Regions from separate parts of the Homo sapiens genome. Here regions 2 and 3 are each linked to region 1. The links come from fine-mapping of genetic effects on gene expression. A gene starts in region 1. Each other region holds a variant in brackets. All regions are shown on one strand. Distances are from middle to middle.

The links. PIP is the estimated chance that this variant, and not a neighbour inherited with it, causes the effect.
Region 2: its variant is fine-mapped to the expression of ZFAND2A in monocytes after LPS (Quach 2016, PIP 0.95).
Region 3: its variant is fine-mapped to the expression of ZFAND2A in whole blood (INTERVAL, PIP above 0.99).

What each region holds. Positions count from the first base shown.
Region 1 is chr7:1,155,972-1,164,143 of GRCh38, reverse strand. ZFAND2A (zinc finger AN1-type containing 2A) reads left to right here and starts at 3,948. Exons shown (of 5, transcript NM_182491.4): 1 at 3,948-4,180; 2 at 5,887-5,986; 3 at 6,394-6,488. The coding sequence starts at 5,932. It overlaps ZFAND2A-DT (ZFAND2A divergent transcript), which reads right to left and starts at 3,770. Exons shown (of 3, transcript NR_110069.1): 1 at 3,521-3,770; 2 at 1,601-1,792. RefSeq lists enhancers at 2,792-3,304, 3,305-3,818, 3,819-4,331, 4,332-4,846 and silencers at 3,410-3,459, 3,470-4,009.
Region 2 is chr7:1,217,893-1,226,064 of GRCh38, reverse strand. No RefSeq gene overlaps it. Among named protein-coding and RNA genes, the nearest start is that of UNCX, 11 kb to the left of the region's middle. RefSeq lists an enhancer at 1-547 and a silencer at 2,598-2,892. The variant A/G (reference allele first, on the strand shown) is at 4,044.
Region 3 is chr7:1,076,621-1,084,792 of GRCh38, reverse strand. The region is part of intron 2 of CHLSN (cholesin); the gene reads left to right. It overlaps CHLSN-AS1 (CHLSN antisense RNA 1), which reads right to left. Exons shown (of 3, transcript NR_187853.1): 3 at 6,731-7,029. Among named protein-coding and RNA genes, the nearest start is that of GPER1, 7.4 kb to the left of the region's middle. The variant G/A (reference allele first, on the strand shown) is at 4,464.

The sequences.
Region 1 (8,172 bases):
AGAGACATTGTTGATACTGTCTGTAAAATCTGCAGGAGGCTGAGGCAGGAGCATCGCTTGAACCCAGGAGGCAGAAGTTGCAGTGAGCCAAGATCGCACCACTGTACTCCAGCCTGGGCGACTGAGCGAGACTCCGTCTCAACAACAAAAAAAAACTGAATGGGGTCTGAGAATCAGAACTTAGTATTGTTTCTTTTCTTTTTTTGAGACAGAGCTTCACTCTGTCAACCAGGCTGGAGTGTAGTGGCACAATCTAGGCTCACTGCAACTTCCACCTCCCAGGTTCAAGCGATTCTTCTGCCTTAACATCCTGAGCAGCTGGAATTACAGGTGCGCCGCGCCCCCCACCACACCTGGCCAATTTTTTTGTTTTGTTTTGTTTTGAGATGGAGTCTCACTGTTGCCCAAGCTGGAGTGCAGTGGGGCGATCTCAGCTCACTGCAACCTCCACCCCCGAGATTCTCCTGCCGCAGCCTCCCGAGTAGCTGGGATTACAGGTGTGCACCACCATGCCCGGCTAATGTCTGTATTTTTACTAGAGAAGGAGTTTCACCATACTGGTCAGGCTGGTCTCAAACTCCTGACCTCAGGTGATCCACCCGCCTTGGCCTCCCCAAGTGCTGGAATTACATGCGTGAGCCACCGTACCTGGCCACACGTAGTTTCTTGATTGCAAGAAGGCTGTCATGTGCCTAAGGGAGAAAAAGACGTGCTGATCAACTTCAGTCAGGCATGAGTGACAGAGGTACTGGCCATGAATTCCATGTTAATGAATCAACTAGACATTATTAAATAAGGAACCTTGAGAGAGAGACATGTACAACAAGGTTAACGATGAACTGCTTAACAAAAATGCTGTGGCCAGCGGCTCGGAGGAACCTGACTCTGTATTTCCCCGGGAGCCAGTGCCTATGGGTGTTACTCACCAACACTCACGATAATTAGATGATTCCAGGTTTCCTGCGACTTTGCAGAACTATCACTGAGCAACGCAAGGTGAAACATAAGCAGGGCCACTCACGTTTGCTTTTTTCACAAGGTCAGACTTTTATTGATACTTAATCAGAAAAGCCGCAACTACACAGGTTTCCCAAGGTGGCAATTCCCCTTAGCACAGCCCGTTCACTCGGTGGCCACAGCCCCGGGCATTCAGGCTCAGACCACTCCACAGGTGAGTCAACACTGCAAACCAAAGATAGTAGTAAACTTAATACATAAATGTTACAGATTATGGATTAAAATGTCCACTTACATCAAGAGAAAAGGGGGGCAGGCCGGGCACAGTGCCTCACGCCTGTAATCCCAGCACTTGGGGAGGCCAAGGCGGATGGATCACCTGACCAGCCTGGCTAACATGATGAAACCCCATCTCTTCCTAAAATACAAAACAATTAGCTGTGCGTGGTGGTGTGTACCTGTAATCCTACTTGGGAGGCTGAGGTGGGAGAATCACTTGAACCTGCAAGGCGGAGGTTGCAATGAGCCGAGACCGAGTCATTGCACTCCAGCCTGGGCAACAAGAATGAAACTCTGTCTCAGAAAAAAAAAAAAAAAGAAAAAGAAAAAAAAAGAAAATGTGGGTAAAACAGGGTTAACGAACCAGTCCAAGGAGAGCGATGTGGCCAAGGAGGAGGTCCTGCACTGATCCAGACATCTTGAAAGGTGGGAGTCCGGGCCTGGGCAGAGCCTTCAAGGGGAGATGTTGTGTGATTGGGAGGGACAGCAAGATGGAGCCAGTCACCACCGCCGTGCAGCTGGTGAGGTCCTGCTCTTTTCACAGCCCTTGAGTTCTCTGGTGAAAACCGAGAGTAAAGACTGTACAATAAGCCGGGCACAGTGGCTCATGTTCTGTAATCCCAGCGCTTTGGGAAGCTGAGGCAGAGGGATCACCTGAGGTCAGGAGTTCAAGACCAGCCTGGGCTACATAGCAAAACCCCGTATCTACAAAAAATACAAAAATTAGCCAGGCATGATGGCGCATGCCTGTAGCTCCCGCTACTCAGGAGCCTGAGGAAGAAGGATGGCTTGAGCCTGGGAGGTGGAGGCTGCAGTGAGCTGTGATCATCCCAGTGCCCTTCAGCCTGAGCCACAGAGGAAGACACTGTCTAAAGAAAAACAACAAGCTGGGCGCAGTGGCTCACGCCTGTAATGCCAGTACTTTGGGAGGCCGAGGCAGGCAGATCACCTGAGGTTGGGAGTTTGAGACCAGCCTGACCAATATGGAGAAACCCCCGTCTCTACTAAAAATACAAAATTAGCCGGGCCTGGTGGTGCATGCCTGTAATCCCAGCTACTTGGGAGACTGAGGCAGGAGAATCGCTTGAACCCAGGAGGTGGTGGTTCCGGTGAGCCGAGATCACACCACTGCACTCCAGCCTGGGCAACAAGAGTGAAACTCCATCTCAAAACAACAAACAAAAAACAAAACAAGAAAAAGCATGCCTGGTTGTGTCTGTCCTTACCTGATTGGGCATGGTCTCTATTGATTAGGCGACCATCTGGTCTGGTTGGCACGACGCTTTTTGGGTTTGAGGAAGGGTCTGCTCTGCTGCCCAGGCTCTAGTGCAGGGCGCATTCACAGCTGACTTATGCCTCCACCTCCCAAGAGGCTGGGACTGCAGGTGCATGCCACCATGCTGCGTTCATTTCTTATTTTTGTAGAGACAGGGTTTCGTCATGTTCACCAGGCTGGTCTTGAACTCCTGTCAGGCCTCTGAGCCCAAGCTAAGCCATCATATCCCCAGTGACCTGCATGTATACATCCAGATGGCCTGAAGCAACTGAAGATCCACAAAAGAAGTGAAAACAGCCTTAACTGATGACATTCCACCCTTGTAATTTGTTTCTGCCCCATCCTAACTGATCAATGTACTTTGTAATCTCCTCTACCCTTAAGAAGGTTCTTTGTAATTCTCCCCACCCTTGAGAATGTACCTTATGAGATCCACCACCTGCCTGCAAAACATTGCTCCTAACTCCACCGTCTATCCCAAAACCTGTAAGAACTAATGATAATCCCATCGCCCTTTGCTGACTCTCTTTTCCGACTCAGCCGGGCTGCACCCGGGTGAAATAAACAGCCTTGTTGCTCACACAAAGCCTGTTTGGTGGTCTCTTCACACAGACATGTGAGACACTAACCTCAGGCCATCCTCCCACCTCGGCCTCCCAAAGTGCCGGGATTACAGGCCTGAGCCACCGTGCACCGTCCGGCTAATATTTTATTTCTGCAGAGATGGGGTCTCGCTATGTTGCCCAGGCTGGTCTCCATGTCCTGGGCCCACGCCCTCCTCCTGCCCAGCTGGGCGGGGTCTTACCCAGGCGGAGCCCCTTACGTGCAGGGCGTTCTGTGCAGTGACCGCGGCCCTGGGCAGAGCCAACCCCACGCGGCCACATAACCGTCCAGGGGGCGGGGGGCAGCGCGGTGAAATGGAAAAGGATTTAACTGGGGGATCTAGGTGCTGGGGACACTGACATTTTCGGTATTATTCTTGAAGCTTTTCCCTAAGTTTGAAATTACCTAAAAACACGTTGTTTTGAGATGGAGGCCTCCTGGGGCCCGCAGGATGCGCGGCCGCGGGCGGGTGCCCGGGGCGGGAGGCGCCGGATGGGTCGCTAGGCCTCCTCCCTCAGGCCGGCCTCGCGCTCCTACCCCGCAGGACCCCGGCCGCAGCCCTGAGTCAGCTTCCCCGCTCCTCGCCCGCCCGGCTGCGCCTGCGCGGAGCCGCCTCACTGTGACCCAGCAAGCGCGCCGCCTGCGAGAAGCGACCGGACACTTCGAGAAGGGAAGTGGAGAAGCGAGGAGTGGGCGGGCCTGCGGGGCGCGGCGGGGCGGGATTGGCCGGATGGCTGGTGTCGTCTTCGGTGTGCGCCGGCGCCACTGGGCCGCGGCCTGGCGGGATTGGCCGGTCTGCGGGTGACGTTGTCGGGGCGCGCCCGGAAACCCCAAGGCCCAGACGGCTCTCAGATCCGGGGGCTGCGGATAAATCCCCGTAGGCCGCGGGCAGCGAGATGTTGCGTTCCGGTGTGGGTGTGGGTGTGCCTCCGACGGCGTCTCGGTGCCAGTGTCGAGGTTCTTTCTGCTTAGCTACCCGGAGCCGACTACGGAGGAGGACACCTGAGTTTACGTCTCTTCCATCTGCTGCTCACCTCAGCTGCCTGGGTCCCCGACGAGAGCCAGGTACGGGGCCGGGATTGCGCAGACAGGGTCTGCCGGGGGTCGGGCCTGCCTTGAGGTCAGGTTGCTCGGGGGTTCGGCCTGTCTGCTAGGAGTGCGGCTGCTGAAAGTCCGGCTGCTTGCTGGAGGTCAGGCTGCTGGGGGTCCGGCCTGTCTGCTGGGGACCGGGCCTGCCGGGGTCTGGCTGCTGGGGGTCCGGCCTGTCTGCTGGGGACCGGGCCTGCCGGGGTCTGGCTGTTGGGGGTCCGGCTGTCTGCTGGGGACCGGGCCTGCCGGGGTCTGGCTGCTGGGGGTCCGGCCTGTCTGCTGGGGACCGGGCCTGCCGGGGTCTGGCTGCTGGGGGTCCGGCCTGTCTGCTGGGGACCGGGCCTGCCGGGGTCTGGCTGTTGGGGGTCCGGCCTGTCTGCTGGGGACCGGGCCTGCCGGGGTCTGGCTGTTGGGGGTCCGGCTGTCTGCTGGGGACCGGGCCTGCCGGGGTCTGGCTGCTGGGGGTCCGGCCTGTCTGCTGGGAGTCCGGCTGTCTGCTGGGGGCCGGGCCTGCCATCGGGGCCGTAGTACCGGGTCGCACGGGGTCGTTAACCCGCCAGCCGAGTGACAGCCACGTAGATGTGTGTTTTCTTGCTGCGGGCCCGGCCCGCCAGGGTAGGGTGTTGGTTTCCTAGGACGGGTGCTGTGCGTCCAGAACAAAATCATTTGGGGATTCACATCAAACTCTTGTGAATTCCTTGAACAAAACAATTTCGGAACGCCTGCTGTGTGTCGGGCACCGGGAGCTAATAGTAAAGCAGCGGATCTGTAGTTGGAAGCTGTGGGCGAAGGAGGGCTGGGAAAGGACTAATGGGCACCTTAAGTAGCGGGCGTGTAACATAGAGGGAACTGGGGAGGGTGGGAATGGCTTTAAACTGAGGCGGGAGGGGATAACTAGACGTTTGCCATGGGCGAGAGTGTTCCAGTCTTAGGCGACAGTCTAGGAGGCCTCCAGGAGTGGGGAGAGAGCTGATGGGAAGGTCAGGAAAAGGCCCCGGGAGGGGCTGGTGAGTACTAGATGACGGGACCTCGTGAGCCCCAGGAAAAGGCCCCGGGAGGGCTGGTGGGTACTAGATCATGGAGGGGACCTCGTGAGCCCCTTGATTCTCTCTCGAGTGCGGTAGTTTCACCAGCTGTCTGCCTGTTTTCCATAGTGACTTAACAGCTTGCGCTTCTCCCTGATCAACTCCAGGTTGATGTCATCGAGGAATAAGTTCACAGTAAGATTCAATGCCTAAGGGAGTTGAAGAGAGAGGCGAGGGACAGAGTTAAATCTTCTCTGGATAATGGAGTCAACTGATGTGATTTAGCACCTAGTAACAGAGTTTTGTTTATGTGAACAAGTATATTCCATGGATAAAATTGTGACTTAAAATTCACCAAAGTCGTAATCATCACTGGCAGCTGTGTGAATTAGCTCTCGCCCCCTCAGTGTGAGTTTAAATAGAAACCCGAGTTCAAGGAGTGCTTCATAGACTAGGAATTAAAAGGCCTGTGAAGGAGTCCGTGTCTCTTAATGGGGTTGACTACGAATGGCGGACACCTGGTATTTGTACTAAAACTCCATGGAATGCTCCCCACACAGTGCGTTTGTTGACTTTCATTAGCTGTAATTACATTGTAAATCCTGGTGACTGAAGGGCAGTCCAGCTTTCCTCCTAACTATTCTGATTCTCTTGTAGGTGACACTTAACTCCGCCATCTGCGTTTTGAGCACTGTTCTCATAATGGAGTTTCCTGATTTGGGGAAGCATTGTTCAGAAAAGACTTGCAAGCAGCTAGGTGAGTACTTTTAAGAGACTTAATAGAAAATGGTATTTTGTTGGGGGAAAGCTGGCTGTTCTGTTAATTAGCTGATAATTGTGTCTTGGCCTTCCTGGCTCCTCAGTATTGGGAACTGTGCTGGTGCAGGTTCTGTTTGACACTTAGCATCCACCAGAGGCTGGGTGCAGGAGTGCAGGCTGGCTAGCAGGGCCAGGTGGATCCAGGGGGCTGCTGGAATACTTGCGATGCCATAGGGGGTCTCTAGAAGACAGCCTGACCCTGGGATTGTTTTCACATGTGTGGCCCTCGAGGACCTGTCCATCTCATAGGCCTAAAACACTTAGTGTAGGTAAACACTTTGATAGTACTATCTGGAAGTATTTTGTTCCAGTCGTTAAAACACTTCCCTGTTTTTTGTTTTTTAGATTTTCTTCCAGTAAAATGTGATGCATGTAAACAAGATTTCTGTAAAGATCATTTTCCATACGCTGCACATAAGTGTCCGTTTGCATTCCAGAAGGTAATTGATCCTTTGTTCAAAAGATTCTCATCTTCACCGTCTGAAGCTGCACTGTCTTGCTGGTATGGTAGGGACTAGCGACGTATGGCTAACTCATTGAAAATTAAATTTTAAAATCCAGTTTTTCAGTCCCACTAGCCTCGTTTCAGGTGCCTGCTGTTAGGCAGTACAGAGGAGCGTGTCTGCCCTCACAGGACATTCTGTTGGATGACTCTCAGACAACTGAGATCTTATTTTCAGGGACTCATGGAGTCACTTAGTTGTAACCTTATGTTCCAAGCTTACTTTAGATGTTCAAATACTTGGTTCCTTTGATCTGTTACACCATAGCTGTTACACCATAGCTGTGTCTTCACCAGATGCAAGAAAGATTTTAATATTTGACTTGGAAGCCAATCAGGAAGGCAGTAAATACGCTTATTGATTTGAATAACTGCAGCCTTGACATAGTATTTAGGTGACTCCCAGAGTACACAGCAGAAACTGAAAGAGGACCTAAGGAAATGAGCTTGCCCCGAGTCCAGAGGTTTGAGACTTGTTGTTGACTTTTCAGATGGTTCCCAGCCCGTGTTTACTTTGTCTCTGGATGGGTCACAGGTCATTTTAGTGAACTCTGCCACTTGACCGTGGTGGCAGTGGTAATGTGGGTGGCCCAGCATTCTGTGCTTTGACCAGTGTTGGCCAGGGTCTGACCCTCCAGCCATTTTTAGGCCATCACGGTGGGTGGGGAGGGTGACTCACATTCCCTGCGTTTACTAGGCACGGATGACTAAGCCAGACTGCCCAGCTTGTCTTCCCACTGCCCCTTCCTGCCCCAGCATGGGGTGGGGTCTGGCTGGAGACCGTTTACTAATACTTTATTTCATTTGACCAAATGAGGAAGCACCACCACCTGTGACTCTCCCAGCTCGGGCTGTAGACGGGTGTGCTCATAATTCCGTGAGCACCTGCCACCCGTTCCATGTCGGTTGCCACCTCGGTTTTCTCATTGACCTTTCCATCAATTCCTGCCCTGGCTCAGGTTTTTAGCCATGCTGGGCGTTAGCTGCTGGGCGGTCCACCCCTTCGGAGCCCCCAGCTCAGGTTTTTAGCCTTGCTGGGCCTTCAGCTGCTGGGCGGTCCACCCCTTCGGAGCCCCCAGCTCAGGTTTTTAGCCTTGCTGGGCCTTCAGCTGCTGGGCGGTCCACCCCTTCGGAGCCCCCAGCTCAGGTTTTTAGCCTTGCTGGGCCTTCAGCTGCTGGGCGGTCCACCCCTTCGGAGCCCCCAGCTCAGGTTTTTAGCCTTGCTGGGCCTTCAGCTGCTGGGCGGTCCACCCCTTCGGAGCCCCCAGCTCAGGTTTTTAGCCTTGCTGGGCCTTCAGCTGCTGGGCGGTCCACCCCTTCGGAGCCCCCAGCTCAGGTTTTTAGCCTTGCTGGGCCTTCAGCTGCTGGGCGGTCCACCCCTTCGGAGCCCCCAGCTCAGGTTTTTAGCCTTGCTGGGCCTTCAGCTGCTGGGCAGTCCACCCCTTCGGAGCCCCCAGCTCAGGTTTTTAGCCTTGCTGGGCGGTCCACCCCTTTGGAGCCCTCACAACCTTGGCCTGCAGCCAGTGACGGTCGTTAGTACCTGGGAGCTCACCCTAGGTACACGTGGCCTCATCTGGGCGCAAGCAACTCTCTGTGTACGTAGAAGCCACTGGGGAAACCGC
Region 2 (8,172 bases), 62 kb before region 1:
ACAAAGCCAAACAGAACCGGCCCGGCCCGGGCCACGCGGGCTGCAGCGGCGCCGGCGCCGGAGCCGTGCAAGTTCCTGTTAAACCCACATTTCTATTAGTTGAAGTTAACAGGCGTAATCTTGTTTCCAGATATTTATCCACGTTCGGAGGGCCGTAGTTACATGTTTGAAGTTAGGGGGGAAAAGTGAAGGATCTGAGCTGCCATTCTAAAAATACATTAACAGTTTCCAAAATCTATATCGCTGCTTAATTAAATCTGTTATCCTGTTTGTAGGATCTGTGGCTAATTATTTAGAGTCATTTAATCTACTCAATTTGCACGTTAATTAAACAGCATCGGTTTGCAGAGCGCGGCCGGGCGGGCTCGGAGGGGCGCAGCGCCGCCTGGTGGGGATCCAGCCTGGACAGCGCGCTCGGGGCCGGAGCCGCGCGCACCGGGCCTGGATCCCGGGGTCCCGGGGCCAGAGTCCCCAGAGGGTGAGCGGCCCCGATGGTGGAGGCCGGGAGAGGGGCTGCGCGGCTTCCAGGAAACGCTCTCAGGTCATCCCGCAGGGAGACACGGGGTGGCTACGGTCAGCCGCCAGGACGCAGCTCTTGTTATTTACGGGCAGGGGGATTCATTCATTCATTCACCCATTCATTCACTCATTCACTCACTCACTCATCCATCCCTCCCTCCCTCCCTCCCTCTCCCCTGCCCCTCCTTCTGCCGCCACTCCAGGCACCGGGACGCAGCTCTTCTGTAATTTACTGTCAAGGGGATTCATTCATTCATCCATCCATTCATTCATTCATTCACTCATTCACTCATCCATCCCTCCCTCTCCCCTGCCCCTCCTTCTGCCCCCACCCCGGGCACCGGGACGCAGCTCTTCTGTTATTTACGGGCAGGGGGATTCATTCATTCATCCATTCATTCACTCACTCACTCACTCACTCATCCATCCATCCACCCCTCCCTCTCCCCTGCCCCTCCTTCCGCTCCAACCCCGGGCACCGGGACGCAGCTCTTCTGTTATTTATGGGCAGGGGGATTCATCCATTCATTCATTCATTCATTCACTCATTCACTCACTCACTCACTCACTCACTCACTCATCCATCCATCCCTCCCTCCCTCTCCCCTGCCCCTCCTTCCGCTCCAACCCCCGGCACCGGGACGCAGCTCTTCTGTTATTTACGGGCAGGGGGATTCATTCATTCATTCATTCATTCATTCACTCACTCATCCATCCATCCATCCATCCCTCCCTCCCTCTCCCCTGCCCCCTTCTGCCCCCACCCCCTGCACGGAGTGGAGGGGTCAGGGCGGGGTGCAGGCCGGGGTGCAGGACTCGCGCACGCAGCAGAAGCCGGTCTGCTCTGCGCTTCGGCACCGCTCCAGCCTGGGGCGTGGGGCCCGCGCCGGCCAGGCCTGGTTAACTGGAAAACGATGGAGCCGCGCCCCGCCCCCGCACTTGCGGCCTAATTGTTTTCCCTCGCCCGTCCCCATCTGTCCCTCTCCGCCCGTGTGTGTTTTGGCCTTTGTCTCGCTGCCCCGCGCTGACACCCTCTTTCAAAGGCCGCTTCTGTCGCCCTTCACCGATCTCTTCTGCCCCATTAACCCATCGGCACGAGGCTCCGGCAACAAAGGCCTGAAATCGGATGGACGCGCGCGCGCTCTCCCCACCGTCCGCCGCGGTCTCCGCGCCCCGCTCAGCTCGGCCCGGCCCGGCCCGATGGGGCGGGAACGGAGCTGGCCAGGAAAGTGCTCGCGGTGGTGGCCCGAGCCCGAGTCCCGCCTGCAGAAGCCGGAGCCTTGGCAGGGGCCCCGAAGCAGCTGCACCCCGGGAACGCACCGCGCGCTGCGAAAGCTAATCCGGCCGCGTCCCCCTTTGTCCCTCCCTGGATGTGAAACTGTCGAGTGGGGGGCCCAGGGCTGCGGGAGGAGAGAGGCAGGTCCTCCTCGGAGCCTGGTAAACAAAGACCAGGAAGCCGGGAACCGAACCTGGGGTGGGACCTCTTCGGATTCCCCCCACCTCCCGGAGAAGGCCACGCAGCGGCCGAACCTCAGGGCGCGCAGATGCCAGCGCTCATGCCCACGCCGCGAAACCCTTGGGGCAGGAAACCCACAATCCCGGGAGGGAGCAGGGTCCTGAGGCCCCAGGCGCCCTCTCCAACCCACCGCCCTCACGGAGGCCGGGACCTCCGTGCAGCCTCTTCGACTACTGCTCATGGGAGAGGAAGGGGTCGAGGCTTTCCCTGGGACCTGTGCAGTAGCTTGACGCCTGGCAGCTCCTTGGAGAGGGCTGGGGGCAGAGGGGAGCCTCCAAGCCGCCTGTCTCTGCAGTGCGGCCTGCATCTTCCCTCTCCTGGGCGGAGGGGTCCTCCCAGGGCTGCCTTCTTCTGACCGCTGTGGCAGGAGGAAGGTGGAGGTCACCTGAGTGTCATCCTACAGGCCACCCGAAGGTCACCTTTCTCTGAAGCGGGGCTTGTTCTCTGAAGCGGGGCTTGGGACCTCAGCAGGAGGCCTCACATTAGTCCAGCTGGTGCTGAGATGCCCATGGGTGCTTAGCCAGTGTAGTCTAGGAGTCCAGCTCAGAGAAAACTTTTTTCACCCAGCACTGACCTGTTTTTATTTTCTGTCCTATGACTCTGCAATGCTCTCTGCAGAGCCATCCTAGGAGACGCCGAGCTGGTCCCCGGGAGGATGGGGACACCTTGTGTCCAGGCTGGGTGAAGGGGTTCCAGTGTCAAACTCAGCCTGGGTTATCTTCTTGTTTTTCAAATTCATTAAACGTTTGAAATTAGGAAGTTGCAAGAACAAGAAAGGGCATAGCAAGGCCGATGCAGACCTCCCAGTCCCCTCTGCCAGGACCTCCCATGCCTGATGGGCCTCTCCATGCTCCACCCTTGCGCTCCTTGGACCAGAGGCCCAATTCTGGGAGTTCTGCCATTTCCTGCGGCTGATCTGGTGAAAGGAGGGTCTTTGTATTATTCCTTTTAGAGGGTCTGGTGGGCTCTAAGGATTCAGAAAGAGCAGGGTCTTCACTGTCTCCCTATCTCCCTTTGACTGGGGCTCAAGTCACATTTCAGTTTTTCTGCTACTGGAGTTTTTTTTTTTTTTTTTTTTTTTTTTTTTTTTTTTTTTTTGAGACGGAGTCTCACCCCGTCTCCCAGGCTGGAATGCAGTGGTGCGATCTCCATCTCGGCTCACTGTAAGCTCCACCTCCTGGGTTCACACCATTCTCCTGCCTCAGCCTCCTGAGTAGCTGGGACTACAGGCGCCCACCACACCCGGCTAATTTTTTGTATTTTTAGTAGAGACGGGGTTTCACCGTGTTAGCCAGGATGGTCTCAATCTCCTGACCTTGTGATCTGCCTGCCTCGGCCTCCCAAAGTGCTGGGATTACAGGTGTGAGCCACCGCGCCTGGCCCTGCTACAGGATTTTTATAAACCCATTTGACAACTTAGAAATCCAAGCCCTGGCCAGGCACAGTAGCTCACGCCTGTAATCCCAGCACTTTGGGAGGCCAAGGTGGGCAGATCACCTGAGGTCAGGAGTTCAAGACCAGTCTGGCCAACGTGGTGAAACCCTGTCTCTATTAAAACTACAAAAATTAGCCAGGCATGGTAGTGGGTACCTGTAATCCCAGCTATTCGGGAGGCTGAGGCAGGAGAATCGCTGGAACCCAGAAGTTGGAGGTTGCAGTAAGCTCAGATCACACCACTGCACTCCAGCCTGGGCAACAGAGTGAGACTGTCTAAAAAAAAGAAAAGAAATCCAAGGCCTGTGTCTGCCCCAGATGCAGCTTTTAGCACGTGGACTCTGGATGGGACACCAGGGGGTCTTCCATACTGGCCAACTTGTACGAGTGTTCAGGCAAAAGCTAGGGGTGAATTAAAGCTTTGAGGGCAACTCACAGAACCACTGGAGTAACTTCACGTGAGTTCCCACCCAGAGGCTGAAGACACGCAGTCTCAGCAATTGTAATAGGACTGTAACAACAGGCAAGGCTGATTTTGTGTGTGTGTGTGTGTGAGACGGAGTCTCTCTCTGTC[A/G]TTAGACTGGAGTGCAGTGGCGGGATCTCAGCTCACTGCAAACTCCGCCTCCCAGGTTCAAGCGATTCTCCTGCCTCAGCCTCCTGAGTAGCTGGGATTACAGGCATGCGTCACCATACCTGGCTAATTTTTTGTATTTTTAGTAGAGATGGGGTTTCACCATGTTGGTCAGGCTGGTCTTGATCTCCTGACCTCGTGATCCACCCACCTTGGCCTCTCAAAGCGCTGGGATTACAGGTGTGAGCCACTGCGCCCGGCCAAGGCCTATTTTTAAAATAACAGCTTTATTGAGATATCACTGGCACCATCACATCCATCCTTTTAAAGCATACAATTCGGCATCTGTATATACATCCCCAGAGCTGCGTCACCACCACCCCTATCCAGTTCTGGAACATTTTCATCACCCCGAAAAGAGACCTGGCACCCATTAGCAGTCACTCTCCGTCCCCAGCTCCCTCCCCCAGCCCCCGGCAACCACTAATCCACTTTCTGTCTCCATGGATTAGGCGAGGATAATTTTGCAAGAAGAGATCCTACCGTCTGGAAAGGAGTATAAAATGAGGAAACGGGGGGTGAGGACTGAAAATACTTTCTCCTGTGATCAACACGAGAGAAAGAAACAAGGGAAGAAATGCTACCTGGGAACTGGAGGCGGGGAAGGACCAGGAGCTGAGCTCTGCGTCCCTGTGTCCTCAGCCCCCGCCATATGGTTTAAACATCAGCACTCTTGTTTTTTTCAGAGTCTACAGACATGTTCTCATATCTCCCCAGCCCCTTCTGCTGGCAGTGTCTGCATTCTGTGGGCGCAGGGTGGCTGCCAGCATGCTGAAGGTCACAACTGTCCTCTCAGTCCGGCCCCTCCTGTGTGGCCAGCTCGGCCCCCGAGGGGTCCCTGGGGAGGATCCTCTTGGCCTACTCGTCCCCGCCACTCCCTGGTCTTGAGGACTCAATTCCGTATCTGCTGGGTTGGTGTCCTCCTACTACCTTACCAGGTTCGATTTGGAGTTTAACACACTTAAGAGAAAGGTGCGGTAGCTCACGCCTGTAATCCCAGCAGTTTGGGAGGCTGAGGCGGGCAGATCATGAGGTCAAGAGATTGATACCAGCGTGGCCAACACGGTGAAACTCCGTCTCTACTAAAAATACAAAAATTAGCTGGACATGGTGGTGCGTGCCCATAATCCCAGCTACTCGGGAGGCTGAGGTGGGAGAATCACTTGAACCCGGGAGGCGGAGGTTGCAGTGAGCCGAGATCACGCCACTGCACTGCAGCCTGGGTGACAAGAGCAAAACTCCGTCTGAAAAAAAAAAAAAAAAAAAAAAAAAAAACTTAAGAGGTTGCTCAGTTCAGAAAATGCCATTTCGTTTTCCCTGAATAAAAATACTTTTGAACTTAGCCTATTTTCACACTAGATTTTGCCCTCCCCCCAGTTCTTTACAAGCCCCGGCTCCTGACAATCTCAACGTTGGGCTTCTAATGAGTATTTTCTTGATTTACAGCAGAAATGAGCAGTTATCTGCTAATAACCCCTGAGTCTGAAATTAAAAGGGATAGAGAAAATAAACCAAATTGCAAAGATCAGCTCTCGTTAAATAAAGTCGTTGTGAAAAGACACGTAACAACGCTTTCACCCCCCAGATCAGAGACACGATGGCTCGTCATTTGAGGGTTGCAATTATTTAACACTGCTCAGTAGCCAAGGGACACTTACCCCAGAAACATTAAATGGACATTTGTTAATTAATTCTCAGCAGAGCCCTTCCAGCTACTTACACACAGACAAACTGAGGCAGGGGTGAGGGGCAGGGCGGAAGGGAGCTCTTCCCACGTCCCCCCTGCTCCATTATGACTTAGGCCCCTCCCATCTTATCAACTCGTTCCTGCCCAGGGATGTGTGACAGTCAGAGGGTGGCTAAATTGCTCTGAAGATTTCATAAACAAAGGCATAGCTAAAGGAATAATGTTCCTGTTGCCTTTGACCTTCCTACAGAGTCAGAGGTCAGTCAAATTCCACCCACCAGGAGAAAAACAAGAAACTTGAGATGGTTCACAGTAACCTCAAGTTAAGGAGTCCATGGGTAGTGAGTTCCGGGGGTGATGGGGATAGGACATCTGTCTACAGAGATATGCAGCAAGTCTGCAAGAAGAAATTACATCCCAGTTAGGGTCATGTGTGAGAACTGGTCATGAGTGCGAACTGGAGCTCACCGGTGTCGTCGTGAGTGAGGGCCAAGGTGGCAGAGAAGTTTAAACCTTCAGTCTCCCAGGTTCCCGGTTCTCCCGCCTGCCCCAGCCACCAGGGGTGTCTCCAGGCCCCACACAGGAACCTGAGAGCTGTTTGCTCTCTCTGGCTTGCTGCAAACAGCTTTCATTCCTAGACACAATTTTTTTTTTTTTGAGATGGAGTCTCACTCTGTTGCCAGGCTGGAGTGCAGTGGTGCAATCTCAGCTCGCTGCAATCTCTACTTCCCCGGTTCAAGCAATTCTCCTGCCTCAGCCTTCCGAGTAGCTGGGACTACAGGCATGTGCCACCACACCCAGCTAATTTTTGTATTTTTAGGAGAGACGGGGTTTCACCATGTCGGCCAGGCTCCTCTCCAACTCCTGACCTCAGGCGATCTGCCCACCTCAGCCTCCCAAAGTGCTGGAATTAAAGGCATGGGCCACCATGCCCGGCCCCTGGACACAACTATTAATAGCAGTGGGTCAGGGGAGTGAGCCCAGGAGACCGGGGGAATGCAGCTTCTTGGTGCTCTGTCTGAGAGACTTGCTGCCCAGCTCGCAGGGGAACGTCTGCATGGCAGGTGCAGGGGTTGCCACTCCAGGTCCCCTCCTGACCCCTACTCCCCCACACCCAGCTCATTTTCAGAACCCCTTCGTGACCTCCCGCTGGGCCATTGCAGCTCTGGGCCGGTCAGTCTGACACTGCAACGCACCCGGGGTGCAACCCACGTTCAGAATAGGCAGGAGGAGCGCTGGGGGCCTGTGTCACAATGGCCTGAGTAGAGGCTGGGTGGCCCATCGGATTCTCGGGACCACTGCAAAGCAGAGGGAGCATAGCCTGTGGGAAGCGTGAGCGGGGGCCGCCTGCTTCTCCTCCTCTGCCCGGTTACACGGGCTAGGGCAGGCTGCTGGAAGAGGCCCACCGAGTTCCCCCATGGTAGCGTCTCTGGAGTCTTGGGGCCCAGGCCACTCCCACGGAGCGGCGAAACCATGCCCTGCTCACGGGGCTGCCAGCATTGCTGAAAAGGCCTCTTTTGCTTTCATCAGCATTGTTAAAGTGCGCTGGAGACAATGGGCACCTGGCTTGTTCACCTTCAGGTTTGGCTCAGGGTCACTGGCAAAGGCGGGCCAACCTCTCTCTGCCTTCTCTAGGAAACTTCTGCATCATTTGGTTATGGCTTCGTTTCCCCCTAAATAAGATACCCTCAAACTTACTAAGACGAGAGTGACTCATTTTTTTTCATTAAAAAAATTTGTTATTATTATCAGGCCGGGCTACTAAATACTAAATATTTAATATTTTTGTATTTTGTATTTTGTATTTAGTAGAGGTTTTCACTATGTTGGCCAGGCTGGTCTCAAACTCCTGACCTCAAGCAATCCACCCACCTCAGCCTCCCAAAAAATGACTTTCAAACAGAGTTCTGTATAATGGTGAAGAACCACAGACTTCAAGATGGAGGAAACGGTCATGAGTCAATGCCTCAGCCCTCAGACAAAACACAGGAGAACAGAGACAGGGAAGAGGACCTGTGTCACCAGGAGGCTCCTGCGGCCACCTTCCTGAGAAACTGGGGGCGATGCTTTCCTGAGCTCAGGTGTGTGAACGAGAAGGTGACTGGTGTGGTGTGCGGGGGTGGCTGGGAGCTGTCCTAGAAAGAAGACTTTCGTTGTCTCCCCCGAAGGACAGGCTGTTCCAAAGTCCAGGAGAAGCTCCCACCTCCCTGAGTGCCCAGGGGTCAGAGGGGTGCAGCAACCTCGTTGCCCTGTACATGGCACACATAAAGGCCCCAGCTTGAGGCAGCATCCGGGGTCTTCCACCAAGACTACCAGGCCCCACCTGCACAGGTCGGGTTATTGCTATGGCCATGAGGGAGGCCATCTATCTGGGGGTTTTGGGGG
Region 3 (8,172 bases), 79 kb after region 1:
GGGTTCCACTTCCTCACCCCACGTGCTGTGTGATACCGGGCAACGTCTCTAACCTTCCTGAGCCTCAGTGCCCATCTGTACAGTGGGGGTGCGTGGGTCTACACGGTTCTGTGAGATCCCACACACCCCTTGTCTCTGCTGGGCGGAGTGAGGCTTCCCTTCCCACCAACTGCTGCTCCTTTTCAAGGGGAGCGGTCCACCAGGGGCAAGGGTGGGGCGGCACTGCCTGAGATTAGCCCAGTCCTGGCTCATTCGCTTCTCCCCCATAGGCACAAGGGAGGGAGCAGTTGGTTGGAGGTGCTCACAGTACCACGCGCCGGATCCACCTTACAGGGGAGACATCAAGCTGTGTGCAGAAGGAATTCTAGAGCTAACACATGCTGGAAGACAGCCCGAGGTTCGGAGAAGTGCGCCGTGTCTCACATGCCAGGCGGACACATTCTCTGATGATGGAGAGTCAAGGGAGGCCGAGAGCCCCTTCCCACGCCCCCGGGAGGGCATCGCTGGCGTCCCCCGCCTCCGCGTGACATGCAGGAGCACCCTCGGGCATCCGATCCTCACAGGCCTGGAGCATTAAGGAGACATGCACCAGCAGCCCCTTTATAGAAAGAGCCCAGGTCCCAAGGAAGCTGTGTGTGGGGTGTGCGGGTTTTGCCGCACCAGTGGCAGGCGGGGTTGGAACTCTGCTCCAATTTCTGCATTCCGTGCCATATCCTGACTTTAGGGACATCCTGTGACCTCCCCTCAGACAGACTTGCCATGTCTTCCATCTGTTCCATTCCGGCCTGGGGAGGTTAGCTGCTGTCAGGACGTGGTGCGGCCCACAGTGACTTCGTCTCTCTTGTTCCTTCAGAAGCACGCAGGCCGTGGCTCCGCGCCAGGTTGGAGCCTTTCATTCAGGGTGTGTGCCTGCCGAGCCCGGAAACAGTGCGGTGAGGGGCAGGGCATCCTGGTTTTCTGCTGTGTCGCCTGGCACTGGTGGACGTGGGCGCGTCGGTGCCGCCGTCCTGTCCCTGTTTGGTGTCTGCAGCTGGAGGGCCCAGTTAACGGTGGGTGTGTGCAGACCACAGTTGACCACAGCATGCTGAGCACGGAAGCTCAGGTGCTCCCGTCGTCTGCGCCTCCACACTCTCGTGTTTTTTTTTGTTTTTTTTGTTTTTTTTTTGAGATGGAGTCTTGCTCTGTCGCCCAGGCTGGAGTGCAGTGGTGCGAACTCCACTCACTGCAAGCTCCACCTCCCGGGTTCACACCGTTCTCCTGCCTCAGCCTCCCGAGTAGCTGGGACTACAGGCGTCTGCCACCAGGCCCGGCTAATTTTTTGTATTTTTTTTTAGTAGAGATGGGGTTTTACTGTGTTAGCCAGGATGGTCTCGATCTCCTGACCTCGTGATCCACCCGCCTCACCCTCCCAAAGTGCTGGGATTACAGGCTTGAGCCACCGCGCCCGGCCCACACTCTCATCTTCTATCACTTTCCCTCACAAGACGGAATTTGCTGCACTCAGAGACCATCTGGCCCGTCAGCCCCTGGGCGTGACTCCAGCACTGAAGGCGCGTGCGGCTGCTGGCCTACAAGGCATTGGCAGTTTTGCGGGTCTCCCAGCAGGGCCCCCTCAGTGGTTGCTGGGAGCATTCTGGGCGCATCCTTGGGTTCTCTGGGAGCGTCGTGCCAGGGGCACTTTACAGAAGAGTGGGCAGGGTGGTGCTGGCTGAGCTCTGCCCTTGGGGGACCCTCCGCCCCCAGGAGCACATGGCGGAATATCCGAGGAGAGGCCAGCACCTGGGCATTGTCCCAGCCCCACCTCGGTCACTGCCAGGCAGTTCCTCAAGGAGCCTCGGGGAGGCTCCTCCCACCCCACCTCAGTCTGATTTTATCTGTTTGAACGTAAGACATCGTGAACCCTTTCTTTGGATAAATGCAAATGACGCATCCTCTCTTCAGTAGCACCACACTCCCCGGTGCTTCCTTAGTTCTCTGCGGGCGCTGGATCTTCCCCTTGGTGGGAACATGGAACACTGCCTGTTCTCTGCGTTCTCTGTGTCCAGAGGGTTACGAGATGGGGCAGTGGCAGGAGCTGGACACAGGACCAGGATCATGCAGCACCTGCCCTGCCCCCCAGGGGCTGTGATATGCTTTGGGATGCCCACCCCATGAAGCCCACTATTCTGGAAGCTGCAGTCATCTCTGCCCATCGGTGGCCTGGCCGGCTTTGGGTCTTGGGTGAGAGTGTGGTGCGTGGCCCATGCTGGCCCCTCCTCCTGTGAGCCCGTCCCAGCCACTCACAGCACCTGTTTAACCCCATTCACTTTGTCTTTAAGTGGGGATGGATCATCCCCTGCTCTGAGTAACTCAGACCAACGGCCCATGAAGACTGTGCTGTAGAGTCCTGTGCACGCAGCGCCCTCGGGCCCCATTGTGATGTGCCTCACAAGCACCTCGCCCCCGCCACCCTCTCTCACCCCCCAGGCACACAGGGCGCCGCGGAGCCACGCGCTGGGCGGGAGCACTCTGACCTTACCGTGAGGGGACGTCCACCTGCACCCGACAGTGATGAGTGGTTCCCAGGACTCCGAGTACCATGGAATGAAGAACAATGGTCAGACTGAGAGGAAGTGGTTTGGAATGTTTGTTTAATTAAGGCAAATTGGAAACAAGATCCTTTTAACATGGACTGCAGGTCTGAAAGCTGCGTGAGGCTGTCCAGATGTCCCCTCCCGGCGGCTGTCAGCTGCAGGCGCTTTGTGTGGGAGTGCGTGCTCCTGCGGGGCGGCGTTTGTGGATGTCGCCGTCAGGTGCTGTCCCCGTTCGCGGGGTCCGCCCTGCTCTCCCGTGCGGTCATAGCCAGGCCTGGCCACCTGGTGGGTGGGGGGACAGGCACACACCTGAACTTGGCCCCGAGAACGGAGTCTGGAGCTGAGGTGAAGGCTGCTGACTGCTTTCTCCTTATTACTGGGCTTTTATCGTGGACAGGAGGGGCCCCTGTGCAGGCAGAAGAAAGCCATGGGTTCGAGAGGCCTCCCTGTCCCTCCCCCAGGCTGCAGTGGGCAGAAGAAAGCCATGGGTTCGAGAGGCCTCCCTGTCCCTCCCCCAGGCTGCGCCTTGTCTGGGTCGGGGCTTCCAGGTTCCTCGACTGGCTCCAGCTCCACAGCCTGTGTGCTGTGTATGGCATGAGGTCCTGGTACCTGGCTACCAAACGACGTAAGCGTGACCTGAGCCCTGGGTCTCAGCTTCCCCGTCCGCGTGGCGGATGCCAGCACAGGCTTTCTGGCTCCAGTCCAGGCTGCCCCCTTGCCGCCACCCCTGCGCCGTGCCAAGCCCCGCTCGAGCCCGCCGTGTTTGTACTTAGGTTTTGTTCTGGTTCTTCTGCCCGGGCTCGGGCTCTACAAGGAAAGGGAAGAATTCTGAGTGGTCCCAGACAGGTTCCCCTTCCCCCACCTTTCATGGCCCCCTGACTTGGGGGTCTTAGGAGAGGGGGTCCTCACAGTTATCCCCGAAGCCCTCTCAAATCCCAGCCTGGCAAGGTCAGTCTGGTGGAGCGGGGCTGGGTGTGCTTAGCTCACCCCCACCCGGCCTAGGCACCAAGCCCGTCTCCCAGCGGCACTGCCCGGCACCGTCCCCGGCCCTGGTGGCCCTGGATGACGGCACGCGGGGAGGGACCAAGCCCTTTGGGAGCTGCAGGTTGCAGCCTTGCTGGGCTGCCGGGTGGGGGGCGTGCTCCCCCTCCTCCACTGCTACCACTGCATAGTCTAAGAGGCAGAGTAACAAATGCAGGGCCGTGCAGGCTCCAGCTCGGCCGGCCTTCCTGTTCTTCCCACCTGGCCCCCTGCACCCTGGGCCTTGACAGCCTGGCACCTTCTCCCCGACCTTACCCGCAAAGGCAGTTCATGCAGAGTGGGACGAGGTGCAGGGCCCAGGCCAAGCGGCTCTCAGCCCACCCTCTCTCACTGAGAGCTTCCCATGTGCGTGGCACTGTGTATATAATTCGCCGTGACCCTCTGCAGCCGAGGTCACGGAGTCAGAGGGATGAGGTCATTGCTGCTGGTACCCAGCTGCTTAACGATGTGTCGGCAGTCTGAGCCTGGGTGCCTTAGCCGAGAACCTGTAGTTTTCAGATGATCATTTCTGAGAATTTGTGTGCAGTAAAATACTCCTTTTGGCTTTCACCACAGAGGCATCTAGTCGTGGAAGCACGGTGCTCGCAGGCAGCGCACAAACCGTCCTGTTCCAGACTCCTCTGCCCGTCCCTGGGTGGTCAGCCCCTCCCTCCACCCAACCTGGCGGCCGTGCGGCTGCACTCTGCTCCCGTGATCAGACTCCCCGGACCGTCACGCGGGTGGCACCTGTGCGTGTGCAGCCTCCGAGCCTGGCTGTCCCCGTGCCTCCTGCGCTTGAGATGGTGTGTCACGTCGTGCACACCAGGTGGCCGTGGCTGCTCGCCACTGAGCACGGGGGGCTGTGCCGCG[G/A]TCTGTGTCCCGCCATCGTGGGAGCGACATTTGAGTTCTTTCCAGATTGTGTCTATTATAAAGCTGCTTTAAATGTTCACATACAGGGTTTCATGTGAGCGTAATTTTATTTTGGGTGGATCGCTAGGATTGGGCATCGCTGGTTCTTACAGTGTGTGCACATTTAGCTTCATACAAAGCTGCCAAAGTGGCCACTCTGTTTTGCGTTTCTGCCAGCACCTGTCCTTCTAACCCCAGGGAAAGCAAAGGGTCCTACTGAGCCCTGGAATTCCCTGGGAGGAGGGGTTGGCCCTTCACAGTCTGTTTTGGTGGCCGGTTTCCGGCCAAGAGCCAGGGGCTTGTGGGACTCGTTCCTGAGCCACGCAGAGGGGCTGCCAAGGTCAGGTTCGGGGCCTGGGGGAACTCCCCAAAGCCGGGACCTTGAGAATTGTGTGTTCTTGACGGCAGCATGGGCCCTCGCTGCTTAAACAACCCTTCAGAGAGGTTCTAGAAAGCATGGGCGCCACTTCTCCAGGGCTGCTTCCCCAGAGCTGGGAGGCCGGGGACTCCAGTGGTGAGGGCTGGTGGCTCCTGCAGGGCCCTGGACCCTCTGGAGGGCATCTGGGAGTCACCCCTGCCCCTGAGCCCTCCCAGCCCCCGCCAGGGCCTGCCTGCCACGGGGCCCCTCAGAGGAGCTGCTGCCCCTGCCACTTCCCGTCACACGTCTACATTGGGCAGGGAGGGGGGTTGTGCAGATTCCCTCAGCACGCTGGTTTATTGAATGTTTTCCCGGCCTCTTCCTGGGTTTTATTATCATTTTTAATGGATAAGTAGTTATAGGCTGTGGTGGTAGCTCACGAAACCGTCTCCCCAGCGTAGACAGTTGAGTGGCTTCTGAACTGCTTTTCCAGACCTGCGCTTGTCTTTCATACCATCCCAGGATGGTTCACACGTCACTGTTTCTGTGCAAAAGCAGCATAAGCTTTTGAGGTCACAATTCTCGTGTGATTTGAGGTGTCCCCATAGGGAGGTGGACAGCAGACGAGCAGCCGGGCGTTGCCTGCCTGGGGACCCAGGATGGCTGTGAAGGTCTGTGGCCGCCCCTCCGCAGCCTCAGGTGTGTCCCTGTGGCCTGCGGATGTCAGCTTCGAGTGGCTTGGGAGGTTTGTTTGCGGCTGTTGACTTCCTGCTCCTCCCGTAGCCACCTTTGTGCCCTGCTGGTCTTGTGACCCTGGCCCTCCCTCTCCAAAGGCCTCGCTGCCTCCTCAGCCGGCCATTCACCAGCAGTCTTGACAGAGCCCTGACCCGCTGCCTCGCTGCCTCCTCAGCCGGCCATTCACCAGCAGTCTTGACAGAGCCCTGACCCGCTGCCTCGCTGCCTCCTCAGCCGGCCATTCACCAGCAGTCTTGATGGAGCCCTGACCCGCTGGGGTGGGGGATGGAGCTGAGTGTTTGGGGGAAGGCTGAGCTGGGGCTTGAGGGGGCACCTGGCCAGCCAGAGCCAAACAGGTGAGCCGCAGGCTCTGCTTCACTCCATGTGCCCCTCACAGAGCTCCCAGCCTCTGTCTGGAGCAGGCACTGTCCCGGGGTCCCAGTGGGCAGGTGGGCACATGGCCTGGCTATGAGTTCTGCATGGTTGTAAGGCAGCGAAGCCCAGGTTTTCACTGGGCCAGCCTGTGATCCTGCAGACTAGCCAACCCCCCGGGAGTGCATTTGGGCCCTGTCGTGAGCATCTTGGTGGGAGTTTGAGGAGACGAGATGAACCGGCGTGGGGGGCGTTAGGCCTCGCCTGTGGTCACGGGAGTGTGGGGTGCAGGAGCATCTCACAGGACTCCCACCTGAGCGCAGCGCCTGCCTTGTGCAGAGCCTGGCTGGGGTCCCTGCTTGCTGTGGAAGATTTAACCCCAGGTCTCACGGGGCCCCCTTCCCAGGCCTCATGGGGCCCCCTTCGCAGGCCTTCGTCTTCTGGGTGGGAAAACTGATGTGCCTGAGCCCCCCCCCACCCCGCAGCTGGTGGAAAGAATCCTCCATTCAGGTTTCGGGCCCTGTGAAAATATACGCTCTCCAGGCGTGCCCACTATAGGGCACCCGCTGTGCTCTGCCACGCGAACTGTCTCCACTTCCTTGCCCTGCCGCAGAAATCCCACCATAGCTGCATATCTGGCAGCTGAGCCAAAACCCTGACGTGTTTTCTGACTGTCCGCAGACCTCGTCCAGCTCCGTCTTCAGGAGACAGGACTAGAGCCACCGTGAATCTCAGTCATTTCCAATCCCAAACGCTGTAAAAATACACCGTATTTTCTTTTATTTAATGGGGCCAATCTGTAGTATAGAGAAGCTTTCGTTTTAGGAGAGAAACTTCCCACCACTGTGAAGTTGCTCCCATGTCCCCGCACACACGCCCAGCGGTCACGGAGCAGTTGGCGGCAGAGGACGCCGAGGCCGCGCTGGGGCTGCTGCTTCCCAGAGAAAGTACACAAAGCATTTCCCTCTGCCCAAGGCCAGCCGTGGCACCGAGGCCCGCCCTTGTGTCTGTCCCGCGCTTCCTTCAGTTGTTCTGTGCTCACCGAAAACAGGCACAGAAAACCTAGAGTTGTGTAAAGAAGACAGGAATCTGGTCTGAAGCCGCTCACACCACACTCAATGCACGTAAGCAGCGTCTGGCTTGCCCGTGTGACCTAGGAAAATTCAAACTAGCCCTGGTAGGAGGCAGCCAGCTTAGTACTGCAGAGGGAAAAGGTGGTGTGTGCCTGTGCACGGGGCACCTGAGGGCTTGCACGTTCAGAAAGCAGCCCTGCCAGAGCAACTTCAAATAGGACCTGGGGCCGGGCGCGGTGGCTCACGCCTGTAATCCCAGCACTCTGGGAGGACCAGAGCAACTTCAAATAGGACCTGAGGCCAGGTGCAGTGGCTCACGCCTGTAATCCCAGCACTCTGGGAGGCCGAGGCGGGCGGATCACAAGGTCAGGAGATAGAGACCATCCTGGCTAACACGGTGAAACCCCATCTCTGCTAAAAATACAAAAAATTAGCCAGGCTTGGTGGTGGAAGCCTGTAGTCCCAGCTACTTGGGAGGCTGAGGCAGGAGAATGGTGTGAACCCGGGAGGCGGAGCTTGCGGTGAGCCTAGATGGCACCACTGCACTCCAGCCTGGGCGACAGAGAGAGACTCCATCTCAAAAAAATAAAAATAAATAAAAATAGGACCTGAAAGCCCCCAAGAATACCAGGGAAAAGTGCTCAGGCCTTTGTAAGCCCAAGAGCGCCTTCCTCGGACCCTGTCGTACAGTCTCGAGCTAAGAGCCAGCATTGGCATCTGGCCCAGGCCGGGGGTCTCGGCCCTCTGCCCGCAACAGCAGGGTACCCAGAACAGCAGGAGCTCCGGACTGGACACTGGGTAACCTGAGTCTTGGCTGCAGAGCAGGGGCCAGCCCCTCGCTGACCACCCCGTAAGCCTGTGCCAGGAGCGTCACCCAGGGGTTGGGCGTGGGCTGTGCAGGAAGTGTGGCTAGAAGGCAGGTCCTCTCCCCAGCCAGGCAAGGCGTGCAAGTCCCCATGCTCTCCTCCCCCGGCTTTCCCGAGAAGGCTGTGGCGCTGGGCTGGGAAGAGTCCTGGCCAAGGCCACCGGTCCCTGAAGGGAGAGAGCCCTGCCAAGTGGAGGAAAAGATCTTGGACATTAATTCAGAGCCAGCTTCCCTCTGCGGCTTTTCCCAGGGCCAGCCCTGTTGGAA